Regions from separate parts of the Homo sapiens genome. Here region 1 is linked to region 2. Evidence: fine-mapped expression QTL. A gene starts in region 2. The other region holds a variant in brackets. All regions are shown on one strand. Distances are from middle to middle.

Evidence for each region. PIP is the estimated chance that this variant, and not a neighbour inherited with it, causes the effect.
Region 1: its variant is fine-mapped to the expression of TSPAN18 in whole blood (TOPMed, PIP above 0.99).

What each region holds. Positions count from the first base shown.
Region 1 is chr11:44,694,140-44,702,463 of GRCh38, forward strand. It overlaps LINC02704 (long intergenic non-protein coding RNA 2704), which reads right to left and starts at 7,220. Exons shown (of 3, transcript XR_931234.3): 1 at 7,118-7,220; 2 at 2,082-2,174. The variant C/T (reference allele first, on the strand shown) is at 4,218.
Region 2 is chr11:44,723,714-44,732,037 of GRCh38, forward strand. It overlaps TSPAN18 (tetraspanin 18), which reads left to right and starts at 3,249. Exons shown (of 10, transcript NM_130783.5): 1 at 3,249-3,574. The region is part of intron 2 of TSPAN18-AS1 (TSPAN18 antisense RNA 1); the gene reads right to left. RefSeq lists enhancers at 1,777-2,637, 2,638-3,499, 2,866-3,035, 4,751-5,253, 5,254-5,754 and silencers at 3,226-3,375, 4,212-4,381.

The DNA of each region.
Region 1 (8,324 bases), 30 kb before region 2:
CATGGGGGGTAGGGGCTCTGCCCGGATGCCCCTGTTCAGGGTCTGCCCTTGGTTCTGAGCCAGTGCCAAGTCTCAAGCTCTCACCTGGACTGGGCAGACGTTGGGATGGGGTTGCCTGAGTGGAGACTGAGGTGGGGGGATATAAAAGAGTTAAAATCTTTTCCCCCACAACCTACCAGCCTCCTCCCCTGCTTCCCCCAGCCTGAGGGTGTGAGATCCCAAGATGCAGAAACCAGGTGTCTGCACCAGCTCCACAGCATGTGCTGGGCCTGCAAAAGAAGTTGCCTCACAGTCCTCCAACCTGAGAGGGCTTCCCACAGGGGAAGGCTGAGAGGCGGGCAGATCTGAGTTCAATTCCCGGCCCTACTGCAGCATGTTCTGCTGCACTAGGCCTTGACTTCCTTGTCTATAAATTGGGCATCACAAAAGGCCCACAGGACTCCTGTCAGGATGTCAGGATGTGTGACGATGCTGAGTGGTGCACACGGTGCGTGCTTCACTCACGTGGGGCCGCCTTTGCATACCTGCGCCGCACAAACCACGTTAATGGAAAACGAAACCAAATCACAATCCCCCACCAGCTGGGCTTCTCTGTAAATTAACTGTCCTCGTTCTCCCTGACCCCTCAGTCCTTGTCCCCACTGGGATATAATGCTTACAGTGTTGCAGTGTGACCTAGGGCCAGGGCTGCTGTCTAGATGTGTTTCCTACTTACCCTCATATCACAATGTTTTCTCTGCACTGCAGGCTTCATTCGTTGTTTTTGATCCAGTACGAAACTTCTGAATGCCCCAATGCATGAGGCCCTAGGTTACCCTCTTGAACATCCACTCACAGCTTTTCTTTTCCAAGAGCTCCAACAAGTTCCAGAGGTGTTTTTTGTTTGTTTTCTCTCCCTTTGTCTCTGAATTCTATTAATCATGATCCCTTATTCACGCCATCCTCTTGCCATAGGTTCATAAACGGTTCTCCTCTGTTTATTTATATAAATAAACACCCAAGACCTGGTCATCCAACACAAGAATCAGAACATTAACCAGCACTTGCATCTGTCTGTGGGCTTCTTCCCTGTCTGACCATCAGCCTCCCCTACCCAAGGAAGCCACTATCCTGAAGCTTTCTGTAGGTCACATGATCATCCCTAAACAAATCACTGTGGCCTGGGGGACAGAACAGGCTGATTGGCCAGGTCTGGATCAGGTGATCATACTTGGAGTCAGGGCCTGGGGTAGAATTAGCCCCATGCAATGCACGTGGGTGGAGGGGAGTGAGGGTTGGGTGGTTTCCCAAAGGCAATCTGAAGGGCCAGGGAAAACAAGAGCCATCAACCGCACTTTGTCCCAGGCTCAGTGTCACTTGAACCAAGTCTTCCCACAGCACCACAGGGCTCAGGCTTGCCCTGCTGACCCCCAAGGCCTGGACCTGAAGCTCCTGGAAGAACAAGAGTTGATGAGAAAGGACATTCTCACTTCCTCCCACGGTCTGGAGCCACAGGCTGGAATCTCCAGCCCCACCTCAGCTGAAGGAGTGGGGAAAGGAGGCTGTCTCTGGGGGACTCGTAGAGGGCAGGGCAGCAGGCTGGGGTGGACAGGGTCCTGCTGTTTGACTCCTCCTGCTCCTCCTCCTCATTATTATCATGTCCTCAGGGCATGACCCAGGTCATCTCATTTAGTCTTCCCATGGTTTTATGTGGAGGGTCATTATTATCCCCCTCTCAGAGCTGAAGCTTCCAAGGCTGGCTAGTGAGAGACTGGCATGTGTTTACCCAGCAAAGCGGGGTCAAGCAGAGCCGTAGAGTCCTAGAGCCAGGTGGCCCTGTGGGACTGGCTTAACCCTTACGTTGGGGAACCCAGAGCCCAGACAGGTTAGATTCCCTGTCCCAGGGCCTACAGTGAGTGATGGCTCATAGCCTGACTCCTAATTCAGGGCCTGCTCCATGAAGCCAGATGAACCCAGGTGTGAGACCCGGCTTCTCCCCTTCTGATTACTTAAAGTCTGTGTCCCTCGGTGACCTCGTCCGCAAAAGAGGATGGCAATGGGCCCCACGTGGGAGCTTACCGTGAGGTTAATCACGTTCTCACCTGCAAGGTGCTCAGCATAGTGACTGGCACATGGCGAAGGCTCACGAGTGAGGGCCCTTTTCAAGATCATCATTTAGCCCCATGTTTCTCCACCTGCAACACGGGAAGAAGAGAGGCTCAAGTCATCTAAGGGGTGCGGCCATGCTTCAGAAAAATGTAATATTGAAATAGTCCCAGAGAGGTAGTACAATGTGGTGATTAAGAACGCAGACCCTGGGACCGGCCGAGGTTCCAGTCCCCACTCTGCCATGTATAAGCTGAGCTTTCTTGAGCAAATTCCTTAACTTTTCCATGTCTCAGTTTCCTCATCTACATAATGGGGTTAATAACAGTTGCTGTCTCCTGGAGTTGTTGTGAAGATTAAACAAGTTAGCCTCTGAGTGAAGTGCTCTGAACAACACCAGGATATGGCTAAGGACTTTGTAAGTATTCACTGTTACCAAAAATGCTGGTTATTAGCTGTCACTTTGGACAACCAATCATAGTTATAGAAATAAAATAGAATGTAAATGTTGTTAATCTTCCCAATATGAAATAAAATCACATAGTCAACAAACATTCGGGACTGATTGTTAATTTCCTCACCTTTTATGGAGAGTCACTAGTAGACAGTGCCTAGAGTGGATAAATGAAGAAACAGAAATGTATTTTTTAAATTAATTGATTGATTGATTTTGAGACAAGGTCCCTCTCTGTCACCCAGGTTGGAGTGTAGTAGCATGATCATAGCTCACTGCAGCCTCAACCTCCTGGGCTCAAGCAATACTCTCATCTCAGCCTCTCGAGTAGCTGGGACTACAGGCGAGTGCTACCATGCCTGGCTAATTTTTGTATTTTTTTTTTTTAGAGACAAGGTCTTTTGATGTTGCCCAGGCAGGTTTCAAACTCCTGGGCTCAGGCAATCCTCCTGCCTCGGCCTCCCAAAATGCTGGGACTACAGGCGTGAGCCACCAAGCTCAGCCAGAAATGTATTTTCTATGATTTAGTGTGAAAAAAAAAAAAAAAAACACACAAGCTGGGCACAGTGATGCGTGCCTGAGGTCCCAGCTACCTGGGAGGCTGAGGTGGGAGGAGGACTGCTTGAGCCCAGGAATTCAAGTCCAGCCTGGACAACATGGCAAGACCCTGTCACTTAAAAATTTTTTTTAAATAAATAACAATGAAAAACAAACTTGGAGTGTTTAGGAGAACAGAGAAACTTACTTTTTATTATTTTTTAACCATATGCATAGGTTCGTTCCATGAGAAAAGTTTTTAACAAATTGAAAACAAATAAATGACGGTAAGTCATTTATAAATCAGTAACAGTTCAAAGAAAGCACTTGCTCTCTATGTTAGTAAGAAACAGGAGATGGAACAGAGAAGTCCACACGCCTACTCCAATTAGAGTTCTTTGGGCAGCAAGCATGTATTACTTATAACGAGAAAATATGTAAATGAAATAAACTTGAAGCAAATGTGATGATTTTGATTCCCAGCAGGCAGGAATATGACACCTAGAATCACACTGTCCCTTCCTCTCACTCCTGACCAGGCCTGGGCGGGAATTCCACTCCTATTATCGAATGTTGCAAAAATCCCAGAGCCGCCTGGATCTAATCCTGGCTGGGCCTTCATATCCAGGTGGGCCTCCAAAGCAGGGATGAAGTTGCCCTGAGCAGCTTCCCAACCCAGCAAGAAGCCAACTGGCTGCTGGAGCCAAGAAAGGCTTGTGCTTAGCTCGCTTCATAGAAGGTCCTAGAACCGGGAGCAGATAGTTCCAGGCAGTCCCAAGCATTAGCTCACCTGTGAGTGGTAATAAAAGGGGCATTAGAGAGCTTCTTTCACCAACCTGTATCCATTCATTCACTCACCCATCAAATGTGTGTTAAGTCCCTAGCAATAGTGTCTAAATTCTCACCACTTCATAAATACTCTGCAACCCTGCTTCCAGATCCTCACATGCCTGACACCTTCTTTCTATGTGGATGGTGCATAACATTCCCATTAATATTCTGAAATAAACCCCATGGATGTTGTAACCTACCTACAGGCACGATTTTTAAAAATAACCATATACAATGTCCTATCTGTAACATAAATAGGAAATATAAAGAATGTCCCGTAAAATAAAAACTGTACTTGAACAAGTAAGCA[C/T]TCAGGCCCAGCTGCTCTGGAAGACATAGGAAGCAGTCAGGGGCTTGCAGCCTGCGCAGGACCACCATCAAGGGGACAGCTACAGATGTACAGGAACGTGGGGCACTGAGCCGAGAAGCCAACGTTCTAATCATGTCACTGTCAGATGCACGTTTCCAAAATTGTGAGCAGTTCTTGGCATGTTCTGAATAAAACTAAATATAGAGTTCTCTTCTCTTGTTTTTGTCTTTAGTTGCATCCTTGAAAATTCAGTATATATTCAAAGTGTGGAAAAATGCTTTATATTTACATGTAAAGCAGAGCTAAAGTCTAGACTCACATAATGATAAACATATTTTCTTCCCTACATGAATGTCCAGCAGGGCGTGTGAAAGTCACGTGGCTTGTGGGGACAGTTCCTCACTGGGCTGCATGATCCCACTTTTTTTTTTTTTTTTGAGACAGTCTCACTCACCCAGACTGGAGTGCAGTGGTGCGATCTCAGCTCACTGCAACCTCCGCCTCCTGGGTTCAAGCGATGATCTGCCTCCTGGGTTCAAGCGATTCTCTGCCTCCTGAGTAGCTGGGACTACAGGTGCGTGCCAACATGCCAGGCTAATTTTTGTGTTTTTCGTAGAGACGGGGGTTTCACCATGTTGGCCAGGCTGGTCTCAAACTCCTGACCTCAGGTGATCCACCCACCTCGGCCTCCCAAAGACCATCTCCCTCTTAACTAATCACCTGCCTTCCCAGACCCACCACCTGCTCAGTTTAGTGGTACTCCCCACCTGACCTTATCTTTGTGACAATCGAAAATGCCCCCCATTCATTTCCAAATCATCCCTGGGGGCAGTGCCACTCAACTGAATGTGTCGTTTAATCATCTCAACAATCTGATATAAGAGGTACTAACATTATCCCCTTTTTACAGATGAGGTGAAATGGCTGAGCCAGGACCCTCACCGGAAGTTGTCTTAAGTCCACGCAGTCTGCTATACTTCCTTCCCGCGTGTCCATTGGGCCTGCAGTGGCACTGGGGACCCAAATATGAGAAAGGCATCCCAGCTGGGGGTTGCCAATGCATAGACCCCCCTGTCTATACAGCATGGCGCAGATTCAGACAGAGGAACATATGGCATGCTGGGATATGCAGCAGAGGAGTGAGCAGAGAGCAAGAGCACCACAGCTAAGCCTGGGGTAGAGATGGTGGAGGAGCGAGGGAATGGCATTCCAGGCGGGGGAACTGCATGAGCAAAGGCATGGAGGACAAGGCAGCATGAAAGGTTCAGGGTCTGTGAGAGGCAGGGGGTGGTGGTGGGGACATAGGTCTGGACAAGCAGGCTGTGCTGTGATTGTGAAACCAGAGAGGCACGGTCAAGCAGTGTGGTTGGGCTGGGTAGGCAATGGGGAGCCATGGGAGGTTTTTGAGCGGAGTAGCTCCATGAAGGTGTTGGTTTTAGAACAATCCCTGGGAGCAGGGAGGAGAGTGAACTGGGAGGGTGAGGCAAGGGTGTGCCTCCAGTGAGCGTGCGTCTCCACAATCCAGGCCAGGGATGTGGGTGGGAGCAAGACAGCAGAGCCCTTTCAGAGGCAGAATTAGCAGCCTCACAACAAACAGGCTGTGGGTCCAGGGTGAGGAGGAGCCTCGAATGACCTTGGAAAACAGGTAACGGCTGGAGGAGAAACAAATTCAAGCAGACCTGGGATCTGGGTGAAGACATTTTGAATCTGAACTCTTTCCCCAACACTGCATCTCCACTGCTACTTCGTCTGCCCGGAACAGTCACCCTCGGCTTTAAGTATGGCTGGGGCTCCTGCTAAATGTCCCCTCTTGAGAGAGCCTGCCTGACCTCCCTGTCTACAGTAGCTGTCACCTCCTTATTTCCCATCCAAGCTCTCTACTTATTCCTGTTGCAACAGCCATCATTGGTAACTTGACCTGCTAGTTTTCTGTTTCCTAAAATAGAGCCAGGATCTGTCCTATTTTTGGTCTCTTCCGTAGCCACACTGTGTGTGGCACATAGTACCTGCTTGAAAACATTTGTTGAATGAATAAATTGAGAGAGAAGGACATCAAGGGAGAAATGCTCAGTGAGTACTCAGAAATGCCCCTGCTGCCTGAAACCCCCTATTTGAGTCTCTCTCCTTTGATGCCAGTCTTCCTGGTCTTCTGTAAAGTAATCGAGAAGGTCATTAGTCCTCTCTGAGCCACCTAGCTAGGAAGGGGTATGTCAGGCTCCTAGTGCAAGCCAGGGGTAGAGATTGGGGGTCTCCGTGGACCTTTCCCCCACTCTCTGTAAGAGGATGGTAGGAGGGAGATCCTTCCATCTCTGCTGTGTGTGTGTGTGTGTGTGTGTGTGTGTGTGTGTGTGTATGCTGGGGCTGTTAGGGGTGGGAGTGGAGGGAGGAGGAGGCAGCCTGGAGCCGAGTCCTTCCTGGAAGCCAGAGGCAGGATGCCAGAGGCATGTGTTCCCCAGCAATCCCCAGGCCCAGGGGAGGGAGCGCCAGACCTGAGCTCAGCAGGTTGGAGATGCACCCTCCAGCCCACCCCCACCCTGCCCTGCAAGAGGTCCTGCAGGCCTGGCCAGCACCCTCTTTCTCTCCCTACAGCGCTCCTCAAGGAACTGTCTGGCCTTAATAAAAGAAGTGAAACCTCCTCAGTCATGTTGTGACTTCCAGCGTCTCCCTTAATTCCCACACTAGCCCTGGGAGATGTGCATTGCCACGGGCCCTATTTCACAGATGGGAAAACCAAGACTGAGGGAGACTGTGGCTCATCCAGGGATGCAGAGCCAGGCACAGACAAATCTCATGCTCTTAGCCATGCCATACGCCATCATCTCCACCCCAGCCCTACACCTGGAGCCCCTACACCTGGATACCCCACATGTAGATGCCCCATGCCTGGGCATTCAACATACCTGGATACTCCATGCCTGGGCATCCCAGGCCTGGGTGCCCCACATCTGGGCATCTCACACTGGCAATGGGAACAGGCTGAATGGGGGCCCCTGCCCTGGAGACCCTGACAGCCCTGCTCCCAGAATCACTAACACTTGCAGGAGGGCCTGCGTTTTTATTTCTGTCTCCTTGGGCAGGAAACATGGCCAGGAGAGAGATAAGGAGGAAAGAAAGGAGGGGCAGGCTTCTCTGGAGCCAGGGCTGCTGCCTCCCCCTCCACACACAGGGCAGAAGAATAGAAGGAAGTGGCCAGAGAAAGGCAAGTGTCTGAGTCGGGGGGTAGGGGATGTGGGGCAGGGAGGTTATCATCTACAAATAACCCTATCTCCAGGACCCCCAGGAGAGGATCAGAAGGGGCTGAGGCCAGAGGGTCTGGGCTGTGTGGCTGAGGGGGTGGACAGGGGTCATCAGTGTCTGCCTGGGAGATGATCAAAGGGCCACACAGAGGACAAGGACATGACCCAGGACCCTCCCCTCTGCCTGCTGCTCTGACCCTGCAGTTGGCCAAGCAGGTTGTGCAATGACCCACCTGCCCATTGGATCAGTCCTCCCCGAATCCATCCAAACCTTCGTTCCCCCACCCACTCATCCATCCATCTACTCCTCCTGCCTCCCTGCCTCTGAGCCTTCCATTCTCTGTTCCTTCTGCCCACCACATCTACCTTTCCTCTTCTCCTTCTTTCCACTGCATCTACCTTTCCTCTTCACCTTCCTGACTCATTCTTCAGGTCCCAGCTTAGAAACAACATTCTCCGGGAAGCCTTCTCAAACACCCCCACAAAATCCAGTGTAAGGAACATGGCCCATGGCCTCCCACAGCCCTGGTCTTCTCTTTCTATGATACTTATGACAACGACAATTTCATACTCACATCCATTTCCCCTGCTACCTGAGGTAGCTGATAATTCTTCAGCACCCAGAACAGTGCCTGGCATACACTAGGTGCTCAATAAGTTCATCTGGCATCTTTACTTTCTTATCTGTGTCTCTTCTCTCTTCCCTGTCTCTCTTTCCCTTTTCAAGGTTTCCTGAACACCTACCTGAGCCAGGTTGGTGTTTGCCACTGCCCTTGAGGCTGGCAGAGCTAGCATGGGAGTAGATGAGGCAGTGGAGTGGATGGATATCCTACCCACAAATCATATGACCAAAGGTAGAGAGAGACTGCAT
Region 2 (8,324 bases):
CTCTAAGTTTCCTGATAAGCCACAATCTTGGTGTCTTACTTGCTTTCATCAAACAGCCAAAGGGATTCTATGGGCCATTTGCCCAAGCCTCCATTTTACAGATGTAAGGACCGAGGCCAGAGAAGGGAGGGATTTCCTCAAGATTACCTTGTGAGAGGGAGGTGCGGTCTTCCTGTAACCCGAGTCAGCCTTATCTTGTCCAGGACTAAATTTTTCGGGCGCCTAACTTTAAAAAAATAAAGTACTTTTTTGGCCTAATATAAGGTTGGTACAAAAGTAATTGTGGTTCTCGCCATTACATTCAATGATGAGATCCACAATTACTTTTTTCTTTTTTTTTTTTTGAGACAGAGTCTAGCTCTGTCGCCAGGCTGGAGTTCAGTGGCGCAATGTCGGCTCACTGCAACCTCTGCCTCTCGGGTTCAAGCAATTCTCCTGCCTCAGCCTCCCGAATAGCTAGGATTACAGGCACGTGCTGCCATGCCCAGCTAATTTTTGTATTTTTAGTAGAGACGGGGTTTCACCATGTTGGCCAGGAGGGTTTCAATCTCCTGACCTCGTGATCCACCCACCTAGGCCTCCCAAAGTGTTGGGATTACAGGTGTGAGCCACTGCACCCAGCCCACAATTACTTTTGCACCAATACATAGAATTATGTTTCCCAATTGAGAGGACATTCGAGATGTTCAAGGAAATTAAGGTCATTGGAGGTAATCCAAGGGCCTCCAATACCCTAATTGACCTGGTGAGGAGTGGGAGTGGAGGGGGTCCCTTCCCAATTCTCTTTTCATCAATGCTCTTGATGAAGAGTTTGTTGCTAATGTGTCTTTAACACCTTTCTAGCCTTTGGTAACCTTCCTTTCAAAGAGAAAGTGGGACCTCAGCTTCAACACCTCCTCAGGCAGCAGTATCTTGTTAGACTGTATTATTATTATTGTGGTTAAAGATACATTGTTAGAATTTAATAACACTTATTTTCATTGTATTTATTTTGATGGTTACCTTCTATTTATAGTAATGTGATGCTGGCTTTCCATTTATGGTAATAATTTAACATATCTTTTTAAAAACAAGCTCACTTAAGTAAATTAAAAAAGAATGAAAAAATAAGAGTTGATTTAGAGAAGCCTATTCAGCAGATGTCCTTAGCTAATGCACAGATAGGGCCAGGTCCTCCATGGAGGCTGGAGAGAGGCTGAGGTCCAGGAAACTGACTTGGAACTGGAGTCAGGGACCGAGCTGGTTGTCTAAGTTGTGCAGCGGGTCTGCACTCTCTTCCCCTGCGCCTGCCCCGTTCTGCCAAGCCCCAGACCCTTAGAGACTCTATCCCTCTCTCTGCCTGTCTCTGGTCTCCACTTCCCCAGCTCCAGCACCCTTGCTGTGGGCTTCCCGTTTTTCCTCTTTAAATGTATGTGGCGCCTGGTGTCCAAGGAGGCTCACACGGGGCCTCTCCCAGCAGCATTCCACAAGTGCAGGGCCTGTGGGGTGTTCAGCCTCCACCCTCCATTCTGTTTTGGCAGCTGAAGGGTGAATGTGGAGCCCTTCTCCTTGTCCTCCTCTTATAGAAATTCCACCATTAGGGACTTCCTCCCCTTGGGTGAAGCTTTGCTCACTCTGGGTCCCTTTGAAACCGCGGATCCAGGGATTTTTCTTCCAGCCACGTGCCTACTCTAAGAGTCCCGGTGACGCGGTGAAGTTCTTTAAAGGACCAGACATCCCTGAAGTCCTTACAGGGACATCCCCTTACAGGGACGAATCCATTTCCTGGAATGTGGGCAAGGAAAGGCAGCCACTTCCTGCCTCTCAAAACTCTGGCTGGTGGCTGGGTGCAGTGGCTACGTCTGTCATCTCAGCACTTTGGGAGACTGAGGTGGGAGGATCACTTGAGGCCAGGAATTGGAGACCAGCCTGGGCAACATGGTAAGAGTCCAGCTCTACAAAACACACACGCACACACACACACACACACACACACACACACACACACACACCAAAAACAACAGAAAACATTAGCCAGGCATGATGGCACATGCCTCTGGTCCCAGCTACTCGAGGGGGCTGAGTTGGAAGGATTGGATTGCTTGAGCCCAGGAGGTCGAGCCTACAGTAAGCCGTGCAGGAGGTCGGGCTACAGTGAGCTGTGCTTGTTGACCAGGCTTGTCCAGCCTGGTCAGCAGAGCGAGACCTTGTCTCAAAAACAAAACAAAAACAAAACAAGAAGATCCCCCTCCCCCCAAACTCTGCCCAGTGGCCTGACTACCAACATCCATATACAAGACAGGAGTAGGGTCAACTCCTTCCTATCAGTCACCCCTTAGTGAGAATCAGCTGGCCAAGGGGCCTCCTGCAGAGCTGATGTGTGCTTGAATGCCTAGGGCCCACGGGGATGGGGTGTGGAAGCTTCAAGCTGGGACTCAAAACAGAGTTGCCAAGGGAAGAGGAGTGGGCGACCCGAGCCCCTGTCATCAGTACTTTCACTTGGGCTGTCAGTTTTGATCTGCTTGCTTGTCCGTTTTGTCTGGGGCAGGGTCGGGTAGTTGTTTAGAGGAGGCTCAGAGGTTAAAAGTCTCAGGCAAGTCATGTCAGGGGTTGGGAGCCAGTGCTGCTGTGGCAGCAGTACAGAGAAGAAAAGATAAGCTCCCCAGCCCCGCAAGAACCTCAGCCCTGAGGCCGGAGACACAGATCTGGCCCCTTGCAATCAAGTCATTTGCATCTGACCTGGGGTCAGGCCCCTCCATGCAGGAAGTCCCCTTTCTTATCTGCAAGTCAGAGGAGGGTGAGTTCCCCAGGCTTTCAACAGGTACTTCCCCCGGCAGCGGGAAGCCCAGGAGCCCGATCAGGACCGAGGATCTCACCCCAACCCCTGCGTTTGGGCCCCGGGGTCAGCTGAAAGTTCCCCTGGAATAAACACTTCGGGTCCAGCATGCCCCTCTCCCCACTCCCGCAACGATCTTCCGAATTCAGACGCAGAGAGGGCCCGCGAGCAGAGCGGGAGGTGGTCGGAGGCGGAGGAAGGGGAGATGGGCAGAGGGTGGGCCCAGGGACCCCCAGACAAGGCCTGGACGCGGGGTTGGAGGAGGAGGCGGAGGCTGGCGGGAGGCGAGGGGCAGCCCGCAGAGGAGACGCGCTTCTCGGCAGCAACGGCGTCTGGAGCCGGGAGGGGCGGAGGTTTGGGGAGGGGGAGGGAGGGCGGGGGAGGGGAGGGACGGACGGCGGCGGAGGTGGGGCCGGCGGGCTGGCGGGCGTGCAGCTGCCGCCGGCGTCGCGGGGCTCCAGGCTGCGGGGCGGACGTAGCGCCGAGCGATCCACCGCGGAGCCGCGCGAGGCCGCCCGAGCCCCAGCCCCGGCCCCGGCCCCAGCCCCGGCCCCGGCCCCGGCCCCGGCCCCGGCCCCGGTCCCGGCCCCGAGCCCCGAGCGAGCGCCGCCGCCTCGCGCTGCGGGTCCCCGGACGCGCCGCCACCGCCGGGAAGGCAGCCGGCGCCGGGCAAGTTGCGAGCGCGCCCCTCCGACCAGGAAAGTTTCCCCCCGGCCGCCGGCGGGATTTGGCGCGGGGTCCGGCAGCCGCCGCTGGAAGGTATGGGGCTCCGCACCTCCGTGCCCTCCGCACGCCGCCGCCGCGCCCCCGGGGACCTGGGGACCCCCCCGCGCGCCGCCCCGGGGGTGCTGCTGGACGCGGCGGGGAATTGGGGTGGAGTAGGGATCCCAGGACGGAAGCCCGGCAACCAAGTTCCACTCAAACTAGCACGCGGGGGCTGGGGGGCCGGGGACGGTCTCCACCCCGTGCCTGCCCGGAGTCCGCTGAGGGCCGGGGGCTGCGCCCAGGACAGGTGCAGAGCCGGTGGGCTCCCAGTGCTCCGGGTGGAGGAGTGGGGGCTTCTGGAGAACGGCGCGGGGTGGCAGGTGTGGTTACAAGGTTCGGGGTTTCGGCCAGGGCTGCGCCCGGAAAGGGGCTGCTCGCCACGCCACCCGGTAAGACAGTGAGGGACCAGGGACTGGGAGCGGCGATCGGGGCCGGGAGGGCTGTGGGGCCCGGCAGCTGCATGGAGGGCGGGCTGCCTTTGGGGTCCCTGGCAGCGGGGCGGGGCGGGGCGGAGGCGCCACTCGTTCCTCCAGGACCCCCCTTATTCCTTAGGTGTGTGCGGTTTGGGGAAGTGGAGACTCCATGGAGTGCTGGGTGGGTGGGAGGCTCGGGCACGTCCAGATTTAGGGGGCAGTGGGAGCCAGTTGGGACGGTGCTCGGCTCGGGTGGGATCGCGCCGGCTCCGGGTCCTGCTGGAGTGAGGTGACTGGGCTCCCGCCAGGGGGCGCACTGCCCCGGCCCTCGCCAGCAGGAAGCGCGTTCTGGCTCCTGCGAGGCAACCGCGCCGACATCCAGGACGCAGGGACCACAGACACCCAACTTACGCGGGGTCCCGCCCCGAGGAGCCCGCCCTACACTAGCCAGACGGGGGAGCGGGACCAAGAGTGAGGCGAAAGGTTCACAGTTATAACTGCGCCGTGGGCTGGAAAGGCTAGGAGTCAGGATGTGATTTTTCTCGGGAAGGCTGCCAGGGCAAATGGATGAGTAAGAAATTTACCCCCAGAAAAAGATGTAAGAAACTACAACTGCGAATTGGTGCAGAGAGAGTGGGTTGGGGAATTAACTTTTTGACGGTTTTTGGAGTTGCAGAAACCCAAACCCCAAAATGCATGCACCCTTTTTGTAAAAGTTGCACCTTTGTTTCCTGGATCTGGTCGAATCCCTGTCTGGTGAAGGCAGGATGGGGGTCTTGGGGTATCCTCTCTCTGGGCACAAGTAAACTGGGAGGCACAGGGCGGGCGGTGGGGGATGGGGCCTTAAAGACTTCAGCAGTCCAGGCAGAAGTGTTAAATTTCTCAGCAGTCAACGAGCCCTGGCCCCCACCCTCATCCCCTGGGTCTGTGGTCTCTAGGCCACATTCTTCTGGTCATTTCACAATTATTGGTGGAAATCTGCCCTGGGTCCCAGTTGTCTGGCCTCAGGGTCCCTGTATGTTGAGTCTGTGTGTCTGTGCCTTGGGAAGTCGACGGCTGCTGGCATCTGTGAGGACTGTCATCTTTGTCATGTGCGGGGCTAACATTGAAGGGACATTGGAGGGACTATTGCCTCATCTTTCTCTCCAGTTCCCTCCCTCCTCCCATCACCCCAAGTGAGTGCAAAGGAGCAAATCATAGATTGTGCCGTGGCCTCATTGTGGTTGGTAGAAGTTTTCATCTTTCTCTTAGCTGGTAACCTGTGCTCCTTGGGCAGCCCCCCTCCTGCTCCCATGTCCTTAATGTCCCTTACAAAGGTGGGGGAAATGGGGGTCCCTGAAAGAGATGAGGTTCCTCTGTTCAATGTAGTCTGCCACATGTTTTTGTTGGATGCTACTGAAATGCTCCAGGACAAAGTTGCCATAAAGACAGATCAGCATGATTTTTATTTTGAATAGAAGAGGAGGAGGAGAGAGGAGAGAAAGGAAAGGGTGGAGAAGCCTGCTGTGTCTGGATAGGTCTTTAAGACATTCCAGGGGGCTGGAAAACAAAAGAAGTTTTTTTTTGTTGTGTTTTGCTTTTAGTGACTCTTGTTTTTCTGTGGAGGGAAGCCTGCATGGACCAGCCCTGCCTTGGAACCTGCCTGGGAGCATGGGGCCCCTAGAAGGCCAGCGTTTCCCGTGTTCTGTCCCTCCCCTCTTCTCCCTACCCCCACCCCACTTTTCCTGAATTGGAGAGGGAGTTGAAGGTCCCCAAGGGCTACTAAAGTCTGTGTTTGGGCTTAAAGTATCTTGTGTGGGCTCAGTCTTCTCCCAGGCAAACTCCAAGATCTCTGATTTAGCAACATTTCAAGTCTTGGGCACTCTGTTTCCTTGTCTCCCTTGTCCCCAAACCCATTCAAACAGCCAGTATATGTGGTGCTTTTACCCAACCCCAGTCTGAAATGGTAGCACATCATTGAAAGCTCCAGGACACTTTCTAGAAGCCGAAGTTAGTTGGGTTTAGGATACCTTGGGGTTGGGTTTAGGACACCTTGGGCTGAGTCCAGGAAGGAACCCTCTGCCCTTTAAAAAATGAGATTTTAATGGTCTGAGGGGTGTGTTGGAGGGCAGGGTGCTGGGTAGGGACACAGGATTAATTCAAGGATGTGTGGGAGGGGGTGCCAGGAAGAGGGAAAATAGCAGATTTGAAATCTAGCTCTTCTGAGTCATCCGTGTGGCCTTGGGCAGGTTATTTCCCCTCTTGAGCCTGCTTCCTCCGTCTGTAAAATGAATATGTTGGCTGAGGAGATTCTGAGCTATCTTGCAACTTAGAGCAGGAGAGTCTAACCTTTTAGGGGGCTGGGCAGCCCTGCTCCATTCCTTCTGCCTTCCATTCAGTGGAAGGTGCCTCTCCGGGCTGGCTTGCCTCTCTCTGCCCGCCTGTACACAGCAAAATCCTGCGTTGAGTGAATGCAGCAGCTTCAGAAACCAGCTCCTGCCATCAGAGCTGAAGGACAAAGTGCCCAGCAGTTTTGGGTAGAGAGGGGAATGTCTGTAACCAGTCCCTGCTGGGAGCCCCATGTTAGTCTGCAGGCTCGCTCCCCACTCTTCTTGGGAAGAGCCCTTTCAGTTCCTGGGGTGCAGGTTTTAGGGACCTCTCCCTTTCCAGAGGGCTGCTTTTCTGGTCTATTTCATCAGCCATTGAGAGGGAAAATCAGGAACATTTGTTCATGCTCAGCTGGGGTGCAGCACAGGGAGGGGGCCTTGGAAACCAGCACTCTGGTCCCACTGAGCAGATGACGCCCATTGATCAGGCGTTTCTACCACCTGATGCCATTGAGCAAATGTACCAGCTTGGGCTCCTCCTGCCACCCGGGCTGGCACCTTGGACCTGCATTAGTGCTCCATCTGAGGGAGTGGGGGTGGATCATGAAACACTTTTTTTTTTTTTTTTTGAGAGACAGTCTTGCTCTGTCGCCCAGGCTGGAGTGCAGTGGTGCGATCTTGGCTCACTGCAACCTCTGCCTCCCGAGTTCAAGCGATTCTCCTGCCTCAGCCTCCCAAGTAGCTGGGATTACAGGTGTGTGCCACCACACCTGGCTAATTTTTTTTGAATTTTTAGTAGAGACGGGTTTCACCATGTTGGTCAGGCTGGTCGCAAACTCCTGACCTCGTGATTCACCTGCCTCGGCCTCCCAAAGTGCTGAGATTACAGGCGTGAGCCACTGCACTTGGCTTTTGAAACACTTTTTATAAAGAATGGGAGAGTAAGATGGTGAGCCTGTGTTTGCAGCTGGCAGGGCTGGTCTTTCATCTGGGTACTTGTTGTCTTAAGATTCAGCTCTTGCCCCTGGTCTGCACCCAAGACTGCTGGCTTAATTAGTGAATTCAACAACTTGGAGATGAGCAAAAACATGTTCACTGGTGGTGGGCAAGTGTGTACAAAAGGCAACAGGATGGAGCAGAAAGGTAGCTGAACTAGGCATTAGGAGACTGGTGTTCCAGCCCTGATACTGTTACAGATGGAGCGATGTGGCCTTGTGTGAGTCACAGCCTCTCTCTGAGCCTCGGTTTCTCTATTTCTTTAGAGGCAGCAGTGCGTGGTGGTTAAACTGCCTGGATTTGCCTGTTAGCTTTATCATAACTTCATATCAATTGTGTGACCTTAGACCATTCAACCCCTGGTGCCTCCATTTCCTGATTTGTAAAATGGAACTAGTAATACCCCATCAGATTGTTGTGGATAGTCTTTGAGATAAAACTAGTAAAACATTTAGCATAATGCCTGGCATATAGTAAGTGCTCAATAAGTGTTCACTATCATCATCATTGTCATGATTATCATTATTACTATTATTGTAAAATGGGAGGGATTAACTTTGGTCCTTTCTAGTTTTCTGGGGCCTGGATTGTGTGTGTGTGTGTGTGTGTGTGTGTGTGTGTGTGTGAGAGAGAGAGAGAGAGAGAGAAAATCTGTCTTTGGGGTAGAAGGTAAGGGTGAATAAGTTGCTTTTTTGGTTCTTTTCTTCCTTTCTCTGCCTCATTGAGGGACTCCTGAATGTTGTGACTAGGCTCATGGTAGCCCCGTCCCCATGGCAAGAAGCCCAATTTGACGTCACTGACAATATCCTGGCTCCTGGCAGTTGAGGGATGATATTTCATCAGCTAGCATTTGCCTGTCCTTTCCCTTCCACCCTTTGTTTCCCACCCTTCACCATGGTATGAAAACCATATGTGCAGATAATGTGTTTAAGCTGATCAGCCTCTCCCAGAGTCACCCAAATAAAAAGCCATCTTCCTAGAAGACACTTTCGACTTTAAGATAAATAATCTGGTTCTTCTGTTGTGTTG